2 separate regions of the Homo sapiens genome follow, and region 2 is linked to region 1. The links come from fine-mapping of genetic effects on gene expression. Tissue or cell type: whole blood. Region 1 holds a variant in brackets; the other region holds the start of a gene. All regions are shown on one strand. Distances are from middle to middle.

The links. PIP is the estimated chance that this variant, and not a neighbour inherited with it, causes the effect.
Region 2: it holds the start of PPM1F, and the variant in region 1 is fine-mapped to the expression of PPM1F in whole blood (TOPMed, PIP above 0.99).

Annotation. Positions count from the first base shown.
Region 1 is chr22:21,981,260-21,991,132 of GRCh38, reverse strand. TOP3B (DNA topoisomerase III beta) reads left to right here and starts at 8,346. Exons shown (of 18, transcript NM_001282112.2): 1 at 8,346-8,403. It also overlaps the pseudogene PRAMENP. RefSeq lists enhancers at 8,167-8,461, 7,959-8,945. The variant G/A (reference allele first, on the strand shown) is at 5,159.
Region 2 is chr22:21,947,183-21,957,055 of GRCh38, reverse strand. It overlaps PPM1F (protein phosphatase, Mg2+/Mn2+ dependent 1F), which reads left to right and starts at 4,208. Exons shown (of 8, transcript NM_014634.4): 1 at 4,208-4,264. It overlaps TOP3B (DNA topoisomerase III beta), which reads left to right. Exons shown (of 18, transcript NM_001282112.2): 18 at 1-31. RefSeq lists a silencer at 4,016-4,425 and enhancers at 4,419-4,939, 4,986-5,055.

The DNA of each region.
Region 1 (9,873 bases):
GCAAGGAACATAAAATAAACTTCCATGGGAACTATCTGGCGCTTTCTTCATTCCTCTCGCTCCCCTTCCCCAGTCGAAAGCCTGGCCTGTTTCACCTGTTCATTCAATCGGCACACGTTATCCAGGTGGCTCTACCGCCAGATCACCAGAGACCCCAGAGGTCCAGCCCTCCCTGGCGAACACTCCCTCTTCTGGCCACTCACTCAGTTTCTCTTTGTCTTATGCTTCTGGGTAGAATGAAGTGGGTCCTTAGCTGACTTCCCCACCTTTGGACATGAGCTGTGCACTGGAGGTCTGAACAGCTCTGGGGGCTGTTGGGAGACTGGAAGGAGGCACATGCCTGGCACCAAACCCAGAGCACGCGGCCATCAGTCAGCTGATCACCATCGAGCGTGTGCTTGGGCCAGGCGCTGCTGTCCTCAGACCGGGCATACATGGAGAGCATGGGTCACAACCGTTTAGGAAGTCCCTACAACAGGGCAAAGTCAGAAGAATCAGGAGTGGCTGCCAAAGCAGGTCAGGGAAGGCACCTCAGAGAGGAGACCTTTGAGTCCAGTCCTGAATCTGTGGCAGAGATCTGGAGTCAGGCACCCTGGGAGGGGCCCGGCAACAGCAGCAGCTGAGAGCTGGGCCTGAGTCTGGCAGGAGAGGACAGGTCAGAGGTTCACAGGCCCAGGCCCCCAGCACCATGTGGGTGGAATATAGTCAAGGCTGATGTAGATGGAGACAGAAGGCAGACGCAGGGGAACTTATGAGTGACCAAGATATGTACAGGGGCTTCATAGAAAGGCCTGGACCAAACTGACACACAGGGCCATAGAAAGCCAGAGTATTACTGCTGGGTGGGAGAAGTTTACAGAGCAGCCTTCAGTCCATTCTGCTAGTCCACTTGTCAGTTTCTGTTTGTTTGCCTGTCCTTGCTGAAGCTCTGTTGTAGGCATCCTGGTTCCACCCATGTAAACCCTGGAACCAGAGATAGGTAAGAAAGCCTCACTTAGCGGAAGGGTCCTCAGTGCCTTGCTTGCTGAGTGCTGCTTCCATCCAGGCGAGGGAGCTTGCCTGCTCTCATGAGCCATCTTGCAGCAGCCTCAGCGCCTCCTGAACTACCCTGACTCCAGGTTGTGATAGTGCCCAGCAGATTCCTCATAGGATTCCTACAGAATAGCACAGTCCTTGTGCACCCACCTTCCTCTGTGTATCGGTCACGCTCAGAGGGCCAGTCCAGAGGCCATACAGTCATCTCCAGCAGCCTGGCCTGCGAGTGGAGCATGGTGATTTTTCACATTGTCCATTTAGGTAACAAGTACTTGCTAAGTGCCTCCCAGGTGACAGGTACTTTTGCAAGGGCAGAGGATGCAGCAGAAATAACTCCAAGTTCGTGCCCTAGTGGAGCATGGGCTCCATGCAGATAAGCAAGCTGGCAGGTAAATGACACGTCTTCAGATTGAGAAAGGGCAAAACAAAGGGAGTGGGGCCCGCTGCTGAGGGGTGGAAAGGGAACTGTTTGCGATAAAGTACACACAAGGTCTGTGTTAGAGCAGAGACTAGAATGGAGGCAAAACCTCCAGGCAGAGGAACAGAAAAGCGCAAGTAGAGGAAGATCGAGATACCGAGAAATGCACTGGGGGCTCGATGTACTGTGCCGTTCCTTGCTGTGCTGAAAAAATCAGATGCCTCCCCAAACCCTGACTGGCTAATTGCCTCTGATCCACACAATGCGCCTCTCTCCGATGCAGCCACGCAGGCATGTAACTGCAGCTGCTCCACATGACACTATCAGAGCGTAAGATCAGATTGCATGAATGAAATCCCATTGCTTCCTGTAGGTACCTTCTGGTGACATGTCTTTCCAGCAGTGTCAGGGCACAGGTGCTGCCATGACCTCAGCCTCGCTTTCCTCCTTACCCTGACCACTCACTTTCTTCTTGCCTGAGTCAGTATTGCTCTTTAGTCAGATATGGGAGGATGCTTGCTCCTGGAAGTATCTGGACCAAATTTCCCCAAGATCATAAGACCTTCCTCCTGCTGCACCCACTTGAGAGCTTGCTTGAAGGTTTCCTGCAGTCCAGGCCGAGGGTCAAAACTCAACCTCTGGGTTGGGGTTAGGAGAGCTGACTGTGATTTGCATCCACTATTTTGTGCCTCAGTTTCTTCATCTATGAATTTAAGAATTTTGAATCACAAAGTTAATCATAGTCCTTACCTCACACCATTACGTGTGTGTTGAATAAGTTACTTATTTAGAAGGGTTACATGCTGAGAACAGTGCCTGGCATCTAGTAAACCCTCTTGGAAAAGAAGGGACACTTCTGAGTTCCCATAGCAAAGTAGAGTGGTCAGAGGAACCTGGCTGGGAGGCTTGGTGGGAGCATTCAGGGAAATGATCCATGGAAAATCTTCGGGAGAGTGGTGGTCATGTGGGTCTTTTTCAATAAGTCCTTCCCCATCTTGGTGGTGAGTGGACAGTCATCTCCAGGGGATCCCTAGGAAGAAGCAGTAGGTGCACGATGCACCAGCAAGCCCCACGCAGGCCTCAGTCAAGAGAGGAAATGCAGGAAAGAGGAGAGGGAGAGTGGAAAAAGAAGGGAGGGAGGGAGAAAGCCAAACATTTCAGTAGGATTAGAGGAAAAGAATGGGTTGCCTGCTGTTGCCCTGTAGAAGCAGGACTGTGGTGGGTAGGGATCTCTGGGCCAGGGCCAGATCAACTGCTTTCCCAGATATTCCCTGCTTCCAAAGCATCCTCCTGCCTCGGCCTGCACCACACCCACTTCCACACACAAAGGCAGCATGTGCCAGCTCCCCAGAAACAACCGAGGAAGCAGGTGGCGCCTGCACCCCCAGAAACCACTCACGCCATCACTACAGAGACACTGTGCACCCTGCAGCATTAGGGGTGTTGCTTGTACTATTTGGCAAAGTCAGCTTGGAGCACAGAGAAAGTTATCTGAGTAATGGATACGTGTTTGGGTCTTTCAGTTAACCCCTGACTCTTGGTCACTGCAAACATGAAACCAACATGATTATCAAAGTAGTGGTGGCCAGCCCTTGACTGTTGACTGTCATACACTGTGCTGTGTGTTTGATATACATTTTCTGAGATAATTATCACAGATCACTAGAAAGTAAGGCCCAAGAGAGCAGACTTTTTTTCCGTTTCATTCACCATCGTATCCACAATGCCTGGAAATTAGTAGGTACCCAAAAAATACTGGATGAGTGTGAGAATAAAGGAAGATATGAGTGGACAGATGTTTTCCAACATGGCTATTGCGGCGAGCTCTCAGAGATGTTCCTTCTCTCATTTCCATCTATCTCATGGGCCTGTCTTGGGCTCCTGTGGCTTTGTACTAGCTGGTAACATTTTTATCTCCCCATTCTCTCCTCATCCTCCTTGACTTTTTTTTTAAGGCAAGGTCTCACTCTGTCATCCAGGCTGGAGTGCAGTGGTGCAATCATAGCTCACTGTAGCCTCAACCTCCTGGGAACAGGCCACCCTCTCGCTTCAGCCTCCTGAGTAGCATATGCCACCATGCCCAGCTAATCTTTTTTTTTTTTTTTTTTTTTTAGACAGGGTCTCACTATGTTAGGCTGGTCTCAAACTCCTGACCTCAAGTGATCCCCTCACCTTGGCCTCTGAAAGTGCTGGGATTCCAGGCATGAGCCATTATGCCTGGCCCAATATTCTTGTTTGTTTATTCTTCCACATGAAAGGCACATTCATTTAGTCATATCCCAAAATTACCACTACAAGAATTTCTTCTTAAAATAAGAAAATATTATAAAGAATTGAAATCAACACAATTCATCATTCCAACAGTAATCTGACTTGCCTTTTATGTCACTGGGCAAAATAAAATTTATTATGGATATCGGCTTCATGTTTGTCACTATGATATCCTTTGACATTTTAGGCGAGGCAGGGAGGTAGCTTCTCCTGTGTAAAGAGTTCACTTTTGCCACCATTTATTTACGTGGGTTTTTTGCTGGTGTTCACAGAATATGCTGGCACCTTCTGGTTGTTCTTCAGTTGTTTCTTTTGTGAAGAAAGGAGTATAAAGATATGGTGATGTCTGGCATGGTGGCTCACGCCTGTAATCCCAGCACTTTGGGAAGCCAAGGTGGGCGGATCACGAGGTCAGGAGTTTAAGACCAACCTGGCCAACATGGTGAAACCCCATGTCTACTAAAAATTTAAAAAATTAACTGGGCGTGGTGGCGCACACCTGTAGTCCCAGCTACTCAGGAGGCTGAGGTAGGAGAATTGCTTGAACCCGGGAGGGGAGGTTGCAGTGAGCCGAGGTCGCGCCATTGCATTCCAGCCTGGGTGACAGAGCGAGACTCCGTCTCAAAGAAAAAAAAAAGACATGTTGAGTTCAGGTCATAGGACAGGCTGCCAAGAGCTGTTTCTCCATGTACCCTGCAAATGACTTGGGCTTCTGTGACGTTTTAAGCTCCACCCACTTCTGGGGACAGCAGAGTGACAGAAGTCCCCCTCCCAGACAGGGGAGAAGGATGGCCTCAGCACACAGCCAGTCAATTTCCTGTTCTTCAGCGCAGGTTTCATTGCCCTTTTATTCAAACTTCAAAAAGTAATCTTGGCCAGGCGCGGTGGCTCACGCCTGTAATCCCAGCACTTTGGGAGGCCAAGGCAGGTGGATCACAAGGTCAAGAAATCAAGACCATCCTGGCCAACATGGTGAAACCCATCTCTACTAAAAATAAAAAAATATTTAAAAATTTAAAAAATTAGCTGGGCTTGGTGGTGTGTGCCTGTAGTCCCAGCTACTCGGGAGGCTGAGGCAGGAGGATCGCTTGAACCCAGGGGGTGGAGGTTGCAGTGAGCCAAGATCGTGTCACTGCACTCCAGCCTGGCGACAGAGCAAGACTCCTCTCAAAAAAAAAAAAGTAATCTTTAAGGCTGTGCACGGTAGCTCATGCCCATAAATCCCAGAACTTTGGGCAACAGAGTGAGACCCCGTCAAAAAAAAAAAAAGTGGCTTCTGGAACTAGGTTGCTCTGCCACTTCCATCATTGTGTCCTGCTGGTTCTTTTTTTTTTTTTTTTTTTTTTTTGAGATGGAGTTTTGCTTTTGTTGCCCAGGCTGGAATGCAATGGCATGATCTTGGCTCACTGCAACCTCCGCCTCCTGGGTTCAAGC[G/A]ATTCTCCTGCCTCAGCCTCCCGAGTAGCTGGAACTACAGATGTGCGCCACCATGCCCACCTAATTTTTTGTAGTTTTAGTAGAGACGGGGTTTCTCCATGTTGGTCAGGCTGGTCTCTAACTCCCGACCTCAGGTGATCCGCCCGCCTCAGCCTCCCAAAGTGCTGGGATCACAGGCGTGAGCCACCGCGCCTGGCCTATGTGTCCTGCTTCTTTATGTGTAAAATAAGGATAATAATAATATCTAATTCCTAGTGTTGTAATGAGGATTGTGTCAGTAACAGAACAGTGCCTAGAACAGAGTAAGTAAGCACTGCATGATGTTAACTATTAATAGTATTATCAAAATCATGGACCAGCCTATGCCGAACCAGAGAGAAGAGAGGTCCAGGAGCCCTCAGTTATCCCATCCACCATAACCAGGCACCTGCCCAGTAAGTGAGGAGGGTAAGGAAGAGGAGAAAAGTCAAGACCATGGTGGAAACACCCCAGGGCTCTGCTTCCTGAAGTCCCATGGCGGTGTCTGGGCACCTGAGTTTCTCTCATGGCCTCTGCACACTCCTTAGAGGAGGCCTCTGCAGGCAAGTCTGCTGCTACTCTTTAGGGGAGTCAGTTTCTCCCCAGCCATGGGGAAAGAAGAACGGCCCCTCTCGCTGAGTCGATCCTAGGCCACCATCTCCCTGGTCAGAGTGGAGCTGGGGTTGGGGGGAGTCCCAATAGGGAGACACCTCCAAGTTGAAGGGTTCCTCTGAATCTGGGTCATTTGTCAACCTAAGGGTCAGTCAGAAAGCCTGACCCAAAGCTCTGGCAGAGGGTCAGCTGCAGGGCTCTCCGGGAAGAAAGCACAAGGCAACTGCAGTTTCTCTGCTCTGACCAAGAACACTTCCCGACGCCCTGGCCTTCAGAGCTGACCACTCAGCGCCTCCTGCTGGCCCAGGCCTCAGGTCCTTCCTAGGGCTCCATACAATGAACTCTGGAACTGGATTGATGGAATGAGCTGAGGGCCTCTGGGTTTCTCTTTCAGCCAACTGGTAGCACCCAACAGAGCCAATCTTAGCCCTGGCTGGTATGTGGAGAACACACTGCAGGGCGGCAAGGTGGAGACCTGGAGGGAGAGGAGGAGCTCGGATCAGGGTGGTGGCAGGGAGGCAGGGAGACTTGAGGGGATCTCCGATATACAGTCTTCGATTTAGGACAATTTCCACCTACAGGATTTTTCAACTACAAAACCAGTATGCATTCTGCACGCTTCTTGACTCATGATGGGGCTACATCTGGGTAAGCCCATAGTAAGTTGAAAATACCATAAGTCAAAAACGTACTTTCGAGTCACAATATTTTCAACTTAAGATGGGTTTATGTGGATGTAGTTCCATCTGAAGTTGAGGAGCATCTGTATTGTAAAGACAGTAATGGCAGGATTTGTGGGTGGTCCAGGATGCTCCCAGGCTCTGTCCCTGAGCAACCAGGAAGATGGAGTTGCCATTTTGGAGACGAAGAACCTACCAAGGTGTGGGTTTGGAATCAGGAGTTCTGCTTTGAAAGTGAAGTCTCACCGTGACTCATAATTTGTGACATTTCCAAACCTTAATTTGCCTATAGAACTTTTCTTTTTCCAGAGCCTCTATCCAGACTACTTATTATTTATCAAAATAAATTAGATAAATAAATAACTTAATTTTAGAATTCATCTTCCAGATATACTTTACACAGATCATTCCAATAAAGGCAGGTTGGGGCCCGGGACAGTGGCTCACCCCTGTAATCCCAGCACTTTGGGAGGCCGAGGCAGGAGGATCACTTGAGGCCAGGAGTTTGAGACCAATCTGGGCAACATAGTGAGACCCTCCCCCTAGACCCCATCTCTACCAAAAAAAAAAAAATTAATTGGCTGGGCTTGGTGGCTGGCACCTGTGGTCCCAGCTACTGGGGAGGCTGAGGTGAGAGCATCGCCTGACGCCAGGAGATCGAGGCTGCAGTGAGCTGTGATCTCGCTACTGCGCTCCAGCCTGGGTGACAGAGTGAAACCCTGTCTTTAAAAAAAAAAAAAAAAAAACAGCAGGTTGGGAAAATCTACAAGGAACAAGGGCAATGTGTGTATGTTATTTAAAATAAGATCATAAAACGTATTTTAAACCTTCCATAATCCTAATGCTCTAACAAATAAATTAGTTGGCCGAGCGTGAAGAGTCACACCTGTAATCCCAGCATTTTGGGAGGCCGAGGGAGGCGGACCACCTAAGGTCAGGAGTTCAAGACTAGCCTGGTTAACACGGTGAAACCCCCGTCTCTACTAAAAATATAGAAATCTTTGGGAGGCCAAGGCGGGCGGATCACGAGGTCAGGAGATCGAGACCATCCTGGCTAACACGGTGAAGCCCCGTCTCTACTAAAAAAATACAAAAAATTAGCCCGCGTGGTGGCAAGCGCCTATAGTCCCAGCTACTTGGGAGGCTGAGGCGAGATCATCGCTTGAACCCGGGAGGCGGAGGTTGCAGTGAGCCGAGATTGCGCCACTGCACTTCAGCCTGGGCAACAGAGTGAGACTCCGCCTCAAAAAAAAAAAAAAAAATATATATATATATGTATACACACACATATATATACATACACATATAAATTAGCTGGGCGTGGTGGCGCACGCCTGTAATCCCAGCTATTTAGGAGGCTGAGGCAGGCGAATTGCTTGAACCTGGGAGGCGGAGGTTTCAGTGAGCCGAGATCACACCACTGCACTCCAGCCTGGGCGACAAGAGTAAAACTCTGTCTCAAAATAAATAAATAAATAAATAAATAAATAACTTAATTTTAGAATTCATCTTCCAAATATATTTTACACAGATCATTCATTCATTCCACAGATTTTTTTACAGCATCGAAAAGAAGCCTGCTATACACACATCGGTACATTTTTATTATTTTAATTATTAACAGCATAAATGTTTTCATGCCAGTTTTCATAATCATTGTAATGATAATTGTCATGATTGTCTCTCCGTGGCGGGGAAGAATCTGGGTGCAGGGCTTGGGGATCCCTGCGGTCCGCGGCGTGCAAGTGCCACTCCCTGGGGTGCTCCCGGAATCCGCGAGCCACGGAACCTAAGAACGCCGACCCGCCGGAGCCGGAGGGCAGACGCTGGCACACCGGACGCGGGGACGCCAGAAGCGGCTGGACCCGGAAATAGGGGTTGTCGGTAGCCGCCCCGGGAACAAGGACCGGAGCTGGATCCGCGGTGCGGCTGTGGGTGAGCGGCGGGCTGCGGGACCCTCGCCCGGCGGCTCAGAAAGGCGGGAAGCGCACGCATTTTTCTGGCTTGTTTCCTGAACGTTGGCCGGCGGAGGACCCGCGAGCTCGGGAGAGCGCCCGGGCCGGGCTCTGCATTCTTGTTGCCTCTTCCCTGGCGGGGGTGATACTCTCCCGCGGGGCTTGCTGTGGGGGTTCAGGGAGGTGGAGATGGGCCCGCCATGTGCCTGCAGGGAGCAGGCGCTGTGGTTAATACTTTTCTTCTTCGAACCCTCCCACAGCTCTTTAGGGTGAGATCTGCTGTACCAGTCTCACAGGTAGGGAAACTGAGGCTCAGGGAAGCTGTGCAGCCACCGGGGCCCAGATCGGTGCGGTACACACCCAGGCAGCTTCCACTCGCCGCCCCCTAGGCCCTGGCTGGGTTTTGAGGGCACCCAGGTTCTCTGACCTGTTATCTGTAAATGAAGTAGGGTACTTTTGTGAACAAATTAGCTGGAATCCAGGGGCAATAATTTCTCGCAGAAGTGAAAGGTAAGATGTTCCTAGTCTTGCCTTTTTATCTTCTCACCTTTTGAAACAGGACCTGAGAGGCCAGCCTAACTTGGGCTTGATGGCCAGCCAGTCCTGGGATTCTTTTGCCAAGGTCACCTGACACTAGTGTGACTTGTTCTGAACCTCCATTTACTCACAGTTTTAAAAAATTACAACACCTGCCTTATGGGGTTGCTGGCGAGATTGAATAGTGTTGATAGCTATGGTGTGCCTACTACAAAGGAGGAGCTTAAGAAATGGTTGTTTCCCTCTTTTCCTGATTCTAGAAGCATTTGGTAAAGTTACTGAGGTGGTAAATCCTAGGAATTTTAATGCTATTCAGACCACTGCTAGGCCTACTCCCAGGCCACATCTGCTTGTTTCTTTTTTTGTTTGTTTTGTTGCAGGCAGAGTCTCACTCTGTCACCCAGGCTGGAGTGCAGTGGCGCGATCTCAGCTCACTGCAACCTCCGCCCCCGGGTTCAAGTGATTCTCCTGCCTCAGCCTCCTGAGTAGCTGGGATTACAGGCATGCGCCACCACGCCCAGCTAATTTTTGTATTTTTAGTAGAGACCAGGCTTCACCATGTTGGCCAGGCTGGTCTTGAACTGCTGACCTCGGGTGATCCACCTGCCTCAGCCTCGCAAAGTATTTGCTCACTGTCTATTTACCGTGAGAATGCACAAAGCAAAACCCGTGTTCTCCTGCTGCTTACTTACTTTCTAGGAGCTGTAAGACAAGAGCTGAATAAGTAGATGGAAGCTGTACCAAGTGTAGTGATGAGTGCTACAAGGAAGCAAAGCTGGGCTGCTGTTCCATCAGAGTGCTCACAGAGGCAGGACAGGATCAGGCTTGGGGCACGGGTTCTAGAACAACCAAGTCCAGCCACTGGAGCTCTGGTCTCTCTGACCCCACAGTCCCAGTCTAGGCCAATAAAATG
Region 2 (9,873 bases), 34 kb after region 1:
AACTATTAAAATGCATTTTATCTTATCCAGAGCTGGGGCCCCTTTGCTGGTGCAGCGATGTCAGAGCGTTACCGTGTCCCTGGGCACCTGTGGGGCCCTCTCTCCCTCTCCGAAACCCAATACGTCTCCCTTCAGCCTGCATACACGTGCCCAGAGTGCTCCCTGCTATCCCTACACCCTGGCAGTACGGGCAGGGATGCCCCAACCCTGAAGCCCTGGGGAATAGACCCAGTTTGCACTCACACCCCATCTCAATCCGTGCTGCTGATGGTAGCTGTGTGCACAAGCAGTGGCCCTGATGCCTTAAGGAAGGCGGCCTTGACAGCTGTGGCTCCGGCAGGAGAGGAGTCTAGTGGAGCAGGTGGGGCTGGGAGACCCCCTCCCCGGATCTGGCTTATGAATCCCCTTGGTCTTCGCTGCAGCCCCCTGCTCAGGGCCACGCTCTTGACCCCACACTTCTCCGTCCCCTGCTCCCTGCTCCCATCTCTGAGAAGCCCTGTACATGGTGCCCGTGTGCGTCTGGCAGCTTCCCAGGACCTGCTGCAATTCCCATTCTCACAACAAGCCCTTATGGTCTTAGAGGCAGCTGGGTGCCCCATGGAACCCATTCACATGCCAGGTTTAGAAAATACCCTGTAGGCCAGACTGCCGTGTGGTGCCAGGTGCTGGTGGCAGCTGCCCTCTGACCTCAGTGCCTTCTTGTGCTCCCCTCCCCAGCCACCCGAGGAGAGACACCTGTGCGGGATCCACTGTGTGTTGGAAACTCCCTCCACACTCCGCCCGTGCCTCATTGAGTGATGACGGGAGCTCAGCAAAACAGCTTTCCAGACTGTTCAGTGGGACCTTTCTTTGAGGGGCAGGTCAGGAATGTTTCGGACTCAGACCCGCCCCCGCCCCAACTCAGTAGTAGATTCCCAGGCTGCACCAGGACTTATATGAGAGCTCCTGTAAGGAAACCCAGAGCCCACCAAGCATACCCCCCCTGGACCCCCTTCCTGGAGGCCCTCACAGGTTAACACGGGGGTTCCCTGGAACACAGTTTGGAGAGCTACTCGAAGCTGAATGAAAATACAGAGACATGGGGAACCACATAGAGGGTCCTGGGATGTGTCTCAGAAGCACAGGCTTCAGGAAGGAGGGGGTGCTCTCAGAGCTTCTGCCCCCTCCCACCCACTCTGGTCCCATTCTGGGGCCCTAGCAAGGCCACACCTGTTAGGTCCCCAGTGCGGGGCTGTGACTCTGCTCTTCCACCCACAGGGCCCAGTGGACCTGGAGCCTTCTCCGCAGAAGGTTTCAAGACCTCCAGGACCCTTAGGTTATAGGGCTCATTCAGGCTTGGAGGAGCAGAGACGGTTCCTAGGTCTTAAACCCAGACCACCCAGTCCTTCCTTACTATGCTTCTGCACTGCGCTTTCAGCCACAGGCAGGGCTAATCACAAAGTGTTCCTTTATTTTCCTCTGCAGTTGTCCCTTGTGTGTGACCCTCCTTCAAGGCCCTTGGCTTCCGCAGCTTGATTCTGCACTCCGAGTCCATTCACCTTCTCCCATCCAATAGCATCCAACCCCGCTGCTACTGCTGCCAACCTGGCCTTGGGAGCAATGAGGACAAGGAAGGGACAAGACCCCTTTTAGGCCAGAACTGCCTTCAGATCAGCCACGCTCCATGGGACTGTACCTCTGCCCTGGAGGCTGGAGAGGTCAGTGGCTGCAGACTGTCTCAAGGAGCCCCTGGCCCTGCCCACCTAGCCAGGGGTGCAGCCTTGCCAGAGAAGCAGAGAAGCGTCTGTGGCTGGGTGGGTGATATTGAAAGATTCCTTTCACCAGGGTGGAAGCCAGGATCTGAGGCGTGATGGAATGTGGACAGTGAGGCAGTGACAGCGCCACAAGGCAGGAGTCATCTCCAGGCACGTCCTTGGCCTGGAGCCCATAGGGACAAGCTCCTGGTGGTGCCTCACTTTGCCATCCTCTCTAAGCCGCAGACCTTGAATGGAATCAGTGCTCAAGAGTCTAATTGGGCCCACTCTGAGGATGCCTGCGGGAATATCAGCTTTTACCGCACCACACTGCACTTTACAGTGTGGGAGGGCCTGCCCCACGCACCACCTCACCTGTACTGCGGTTCTCAAACTTCACCCTACAGCCATTCTGTTGTAGGTGATCTCAGGGGCAGTTTGAGAAACAGTGGCTCAGGGTCTCACAGCAGCCCTCTGAGATAGGTTGGTTGCTATTGTCCCGATTTTTTCTCATCAAGAAACTGAGGCTCAGGTGAGCTAAGGAATGTGCCCAGGGCCACTGTTTATAAGAAGTAGCCTCAAGCCTTGCTCATGGTTACTGCCCTGACAGGGATCTAGGAAAGAGTGAGCAGGAGAATGGGATGAGGCAGGACCCTCCGCCCCAGCCCTGCTTTCTCTGCCCAGACACCTCCTGCCTTGCAGACCCAACCCCACCCCAGATGGTTTCCTTTCCAGTCACCCAGCTGCTAGTTCTCCAGGTTCCTGGTCTCACTCCAGGTTCCTCCTGTTAGAGAAGCATCCCAGAGACATTCATTCCTGGCAAGGACACAGGCCTGCGGACCTGAAGGTCAGGTGGGCAGAGCCACATAAGATCTGGTGCCCCATCCTCCATTTAAAAAATTATACTTTCCAACGGCATTGGTATAAAGGTGAATATATTAATATCATATATTAAAACATTTTCTTTGACATAAAGGTTTCTTTCTTCTGCCTTTAAAATAAAATATTTTGGCCAGGTGTAATGGTTCACACCTATAATCCCAGCACTTGGGAAGGCTGAGGCAGGAGGATCACTTGAGCCCAAGAGTTCAAGACCAGCCTGGGCAACATAGAGACCCTGTCTCTACAAATTTTTTTTAATCAGCTGGGCGTGGTGGTGCTTGCCTGTGTTCCCAGACACTAGGAAGGCTGAGGCAGGAGGGGAGGGTCACTTGAGCCCAGGAGTTTGAGGCTGCAGTGAGCTGTGATCATGCCACTGCACTCCAGTGTGGGCACCAGAGAAGGAGCTTGTCTCTAAAAAGAGAGAAAAAGAATATTTTCAAGAGCCTCTGTGTTGGCAGAAAAATGGCCCTTCAGAGATGTTCATGTCCTATACCTGTGCCTGTGTTAGATTACATGGCAGACCCGGCATAGTGGCTCACGCCTGTACTGTAATCCCAGCACTTTGGGAGGCCGAGGCAGGCAGATCATTTGAGGTCAGGAGTTTGAGACCAGCCTGACCAACATGGTGAAACCCCATCTCTACTAAAAATACAAAAAAAATTAGCCGGGCATGGTGGTGCGTGCCTGCAGTCCCAGCTACTCGGGAGGCTGAGGCAGGAAAATCGCTTGAACCAGGGAGGCAGAGGTTGCAGTGAGTCGAGGTCATGCCACTGCAGTACAGCCTGGGTGACAGGGTGAGACTCCGTGTCAAAAAAAAATAATAATAATAATAAGGGGCAAAGGGGAATTAAGGTTGCTAATCAACTGATTTAGAGAGATGATGCTGGACTATCTGGGTGGGCCCAATGGCATCAGGAGGGTCTTTAGAAGTAGCAGAAGGAAGCAGAGGAGGGAACCAGAGGTGGCAGTGTGAGAAAGGCTCAACTGGCCATTGCTGGCTTCGAGGCTGTAGGAAGGGGCCACGAGCCAAGGTATGCAGGGAGCCCTTAGGAGCTGGAAAAGGCAGGGGAACAGTTTCTCCCCTAGAATCCTCAGAAAGGAACGCATTCTGGCGATCCCTGGATCTTCGCCCACTGAGGCTAAGTGGACTTCTGACCTCCAGAACGGAAAGATAACAAAAGCCTCAACGTTTGTGGAAACAAACAACTCATAATGAGCCTGGGACTGTGCCTCCTTCCCGGACGGATGAGCCTGCCTGGGCAGTCTGGGTTTGCATCCCTGCTCTGTCACTTACCAGCTATTGACGGCAGAAGTTGCTTAATTTCTGGGCGCTGTGACCTAGGGATTGCTTTCCCCATCCAGCCGCCCACCCAAAGCTGCAGAAGAGAAGCAAGAGGCTGGTGACTGGGGCGGCTCCGGAGCCCAGGTGGAGCCGCAGTTCGCCTACCACTAAAGGGCCGCAGTCACCGTCCACGTAGCCGCCAGGGGGCAGCAGAGGTCCGGCCCCGCCAGCCTGGAGGCCCGACTGCGCCTGCGCGGCGCCCGCGGCGCCCGCGGCGGCCAGGGACGGGAAGTGGGCGGGGCCGGCCGGCAGCAGCTTGCGGGACACGGAGCCGCGAGGAGACAGCTGAGGCCCGCGGAGACCAGGGGTGAGGAGGCCGGGGGGGACGGGATTAGAGGGCTGACGGGGCTGGGACGAGGGTCAGGCGAGCGCCCAAGGCGCACAGGGGTGAAATGGGACCGAGGAACCGGAGGGGTGGAATCAGAGGGCTGGGGAGGCAAGGAGGCCGAGACGAGGCTCACATGGGTGCACCGAAAGGGTGCGGGGGTGCAGTGCGGGGGGCCGAGGAGCAAGAGGGGCCGCTGCGGACATGAGGAACCCGAGGCTGGGAGTTGGGGGGCTGGGGAGCCAAGGGGGCAGAACTGGGGGGCAGGCGGGGGTGTGGCCGAGCCGAGGGCCTGGTAGGGACCGAGGGCTATGAGGCAGAATCGGGTGCTGAGGGGGACGCGCCCCATTTTCCGAGATTTGGCCTCTCCCCACCCCCCAGGAGCCTCTGGGCCGGCACGTTGCCCCATATCCCCCCAGTCCCTGCACCTTCAGGGGCCCAGTCTGCCTGATGGCCCCCGGCTCCGCGGCCTCCCAAGCGTCCGTGAAGCGAGCGTCAGCTGCACAAGTGCTCGGGCTGCAGCTGCTTCAGCCACAGGTCTGTGAGCCAGAGCCTCAGGCGCGGAGGCCGGGCACATTGCCGCTGGGTTCGGTCAGGCAAGCCCCTGAACCTGTCTGTACAACAGGAAGAACTGGCTCCGGCTGCAGGGATTTCGGCACAGCGCTTGACACACAGTGAGGCCCACTGCATGGTGGCGGGCTCCTTCGAAGCCTTCCACCCTGCGGGACAGAGTCACACATGTCGTGGTGGCATTCCCCGGGACAAGTTCTCTGGGCCCAGCTGAGCTCTCACCACGGGGGATAGAAAGTGGGGCCGGCCAGCACTCTGAGGCCATCTCCAGTCTCTTCTGTTGTCAAATTTCGCTCTTTTCCTCCTGCACGCGAGGTGGAAATACCAAAGGCATTGGGCATCCAGAGACCTTGATTGAGTTCGCTTTGCCCTTTCACCTGTGTGAGACCTTAAATGGGTGCTTGCCCTCCTATAACCTATTTCTTCATCTGCAGTGTAGCCTGACAGTATGTACTTCTCAGCGTAGTTGTGAGAGGTAAACAAAACGAATGCATTTCTGAAAGCCATGAACCTCTACACAAGTTCATTTGTGGAATTCCTTTAAGATACCCCCTGAAGGCCGGGCGCGGTGGCTCATACCTGTAATCCCAGCACTTTGGGAGGCCGAGGCAGGCATATCACCTGAGGTCAAGAGTTCCAGACCAGCATGGCAAAATCCCATCTCTACTAAAAATACAAAAATTAGCCGCGCGTGGTGGCAGGTGCCTGTAATCCTAGCTACTCAGGAGGCTGAGGCAGGAGAATTGCTTGAACCTGGGAGGCGAAGGTTGCAGTGAGCTGAGATCCCACCATTGCACTCCAGCCTGGGCAACAAGAGCGAAACTCCCTCTCAAAAAAAAAAAAAAAAAAAAAAAGGATACCATCTGACCTGAAGCCAACCGAGTCTTTTAAGACCTGGCGCTGCTGCCCACTGCACCCTTCAGAGTGGTGTAGCTTCCTCAGCCCATGCCACCCGCCAGTCACTCTTCCCTCTGCCATCACACTTACCACCTGCTGTACACAAAGGGCCATCGTGGGCTCCCTGACTACAGGGAGCTTACAGTCTATCAAGAAAGTCAGGCCTGTAGAAAGAAATGGTCATTGCACAGCAATGTGACTATGCTTAATGCCATGGAACTGTACGCTTAGAAATGGTTAAAAGGATACATAGTGTGTATATTTTACAACAATAAAAAAAATTTATATATGTAGAAAAAAAATCTAGGATTTACATCTAACTATTATTAGTATTAGTAGTTATGAATAAAGAAATAAGAATCTCTTTTGGTAGAAAAAGGTTGGCCAGGCGTGGTGTCTCATACCTGTAATCACAGCACTTTGGGAGGCTGAGGCGGGCAGATCACCTGAGGTCAGGAGTTCGAGACCAGCCTGGCCAACATGGTGAAACCCCATCTCTACTAAAAATACAAAAAAATTAGCCAGGCGTGGTTGTGGGTGCCTGTAATCCCAGCTACTAGGGAGGCTTAGGCAGGAGAATCACTTGAACCTGAGAGGCGGAGGTTGCCGTGAGCCAAGATTGCGCCACTGCACTCCGGCCTGGGTGACAGAGCAAGACTCTGTCTCAAAAAAAACAAAAACAAAAAAAAACAGTTAACATGAATGATGCTTTTGTTACACTATAGTGGTGCAGTTCCCTTTTCTAAGGATTGCTGGGTTTTTTTCATTACCTTGGTTCTGCAGTTAAGCAAGACTCAACAAGTATTTTTTCTATGTCCCCTAAAAAACTGCAGTTGTTAAACCCTGCATTCGTTAAGCTTAGGAGTCAAAACTAATGCACTAGAGGAAAATAAATATTTTAAATTAAAAAAAAAAAAACTTTTTACAAGTCAGATGTGAGCAAAAGTGCCATAGAGACATGAAAGAGAGCATGCTGGATCCAAAGATGGGGAGATTTCAGCAAAGCCTCAAAGGATCTGAGAGATCTCGGGAGGCAAAATGGAAGGAGGGCACCACAAAACAAGGAGGGGAGGGGCTGCCCTAGGGTGGGGGGTACACAGAAATGGAAGGAGGAGCCATGAGAGAGCCAAAGCCCAGAGCTGGTGGCCAATGAGGGACAGGTCAGGGATAGAAGGAGTCAGAATGACTTCCCAGGTGTCATCACAGTTAAGGCCCAGGTTCCCCAGCATGAACCCCACCCTGGGACTTTGGGCAAGTTCCTTAGCTCTTCTGCTACAGCCTGCCCTGTGAAGTGGGGATAACCACAAGAGGTTGTTGGGAGGCTAAAAGCCATCCCAGGAAGAGTGCTCAGAGCAGGGGCGGATGGCAGCTGGCAGCACCGTCAGCCACACCCCTGCAGCTGCCCCCCGATGAGTTTGCTTTGCCATTTCTCACCTATGTGGGACCTTAAATAGGTTCTAGGAGGGTGAGCACCCATTTGGTGTGCAGTGGGGCCCTGATCCAGGAGGAACCAGCTGCCAGTCGCATTTGGTCAGACTGGTCCAGGCAGGCGGTGCTGGGATGCAGGAGTCCAATGTCCCTCCCATGCCCACCCCGGGCTCTTGGTGATTTGCACAGGCTCATGCACACGTCCCTCTTATTCGGAGTTTTTCACTGGTGTGCCCTGCTCAGGAAAGCCCAGCACCAGGCTCCGCTGCCTCTGGTGCTCTCCCAGCTCTCCCTACTCCCTGCGGCTTGCCGCTGGCCTCCATGCCATTCCTGATGCTGTCTCTTCCAGTTGATCCCTCAAAGAACCACAGCACTGTCCCCTGCCCCTCCAGGCACTCCCAGGGCTGCCTCTGGTTTCCCTTGGTGAGGAATTTCTCCTTCCTGCCGGGTGTGCCATGGTGTACGTCAGATTCAGGAGCTTATTGGGAAAAGGAAGGAAATGATTCCTGTCCCTTTCGACATCTGGGCTCCAGGGAGAGAAAGCTGTGTCCTGGTTTCTCTCCTCACCCCTTGCCTTAGGTTGGTGATGCAGAAACAAGGGTGCTTGGTCCCCAGCAAGTAAGATGGCCCTGGGCACCCTGCCTTTGTAACAAGAGCAGGCAGTTGGCACAGGCCCTGAGAGTAAGCCAGCCTGTCCCCTCTACAGATGCAGACAGAGCTTCACACACACACATCATCACACCCCCCAGACCTTACTTAGTACACATGGCACAGACACCATTGAGGCATGTGCAGATAGTGGGCACAAGGCACAGAGAGAGCAGGCAGGTGGCCACAGTGAATCAGGGTCTGTAGTGCAGACAGGAGGAGCCACCCTCCCTGAGGGAACAGGCCGATTGTGGGGAGGGGCTCACGGCACAGGAAAGAGTACCCCAAGGTCAGGAGGCAAGAAGGAGGCACCTGCATCCCAAAAGGTCCAGCAGACGTCACCAGCAAATGGGGTGGAAGTGAAGGGTCTTGAATTCTGCCCTTGACAGTGGGGCTTTACACTGTGGGCAGGGGTTTCTCCAGGGGGGCCCTCTGTGTGCTCTAGCGGGGAGCATGCTGTCCTCTCACTTGGATCCTAATCATAAATTCACATGAGCACATTTTGTGGTGAGACAGTAGAGCCTCCAGATCACTTGGAATTGCAAGGGAGTGGGAGGAGGCCCCAGGCACTGGCAGTTGCTGGGGGCAGCTCTGCATCGTTCACATTCTCCCAGAAGCTCCAGGGGCCAGGGCAGTCCCAGGCAGAAGAGGGGCCCTTGGCCGCTTGCACTGCTTGAGGGCAGCCAAGCTTGCTGGGAAATTCACGCCATCTTCGAATGCCTTACAGCTCTGCTGGGGCATGGCTGGCAGGACGTGCCGCCTCCTCATTGACCTACTAGGGCTCCCAGCCTCTGCTCATTTCTCCAGCTCACAGTCTTCCCTTTGTCGTTTGAATGTCAGTGTCCCTCCTGCTCTCAAAGTGATTTTTCCTTTTTTGCTTTATGTTCTTTTTTTTTCTTTTTTGGTAGAGATGGGGGGTGGGGGGGGGGTGGCGATCTCACTGCCCAGGCTGGTCTTGAACTCCTGGCCTCAAGCACTCCTCCTGCCTCACCCTCCCCAAGCGCTGAGATATAGACCTGAGCCACAGCGCCTTGCCAGTTGTTTTATGTTCTTTATCCTTTTACCTGCTTGCCTTCTGTAACCTGGGTTGCATTAAATTTACTCCTACTTGTGAGTAAATGTGAACCATAGCAATAAATTTAGTCTATCCCCAGAACCTTCAGTAGCAAGCACCCCTATTCCTACGTTATTTGTATGTGTCCACTTTAAATAAATTACCTTTCAATTCTGCCTCTAAAAGAAGAGAAGGGTTTTGTGTTTTGTTAATTTACCACCCTTCACCCCTTGCATTCCAAATCCCTCACTGATCAGACATTTAACTTGGTGCTGGGACCTTTCCCTCTGCCCACCCCATTCTCTTTTGTGTTTTTTATCTTTAGGCTTCCAGAAGGCTTGTTCCAAGTTAGCAATTCCTGATAAGGACAGCCCTCTTGTGGGCTGTGAGCTCCCTGCATCTCTTACTTCCCACTCTCTTCATCCTGCACCTCAGGCCCCTGCCACAGCCGCCCTTTTAGCAAAGTTTGTAGGCAGAGTCTGTGGCTATTCTAAGACTGATGATTCTAGAAGATTCTCCTTGCCTTCTTCGTTCAGTTTTCAGAACCTGGAAGTCCTCATGAAGGTGATGGGCTGTGAAACTGTTCCCCAAATTCTCCACCCTAGAACTCGGGGTGTTCCTCAGAGTCTCATGTCCGTTTGTCACCATAAAAGAATGCAGTTTTTCTCCCTGGCTTAGTAACTGTGTAGGATTTCTTTTTTATTTTTTTCTGGATCCAATCTCATCCACTACTGCGTAGGACTCGCTGAATAAAGTTTCCCAGCCTGAGTGTTAGACAAAGCCCAAGGTGGAGTCCCCGCTGTGGGGAGGGTTTGGAGGGGTCAGGCACCCGAGAGGAAGGGGGCAGGAGAGAGAAGGGTCCATGCTGAGTGGGTGCTGGCAGGGAGGCCCAGGTGTGGGGCCTGGAGGTGAATCCCCGGGGCGACGCAAAGAACATGGAAGGGGGGGCGCTGGAGAGCTGTTTGGGTATAGGCAAGGCAGGCAGGCTGGGGAG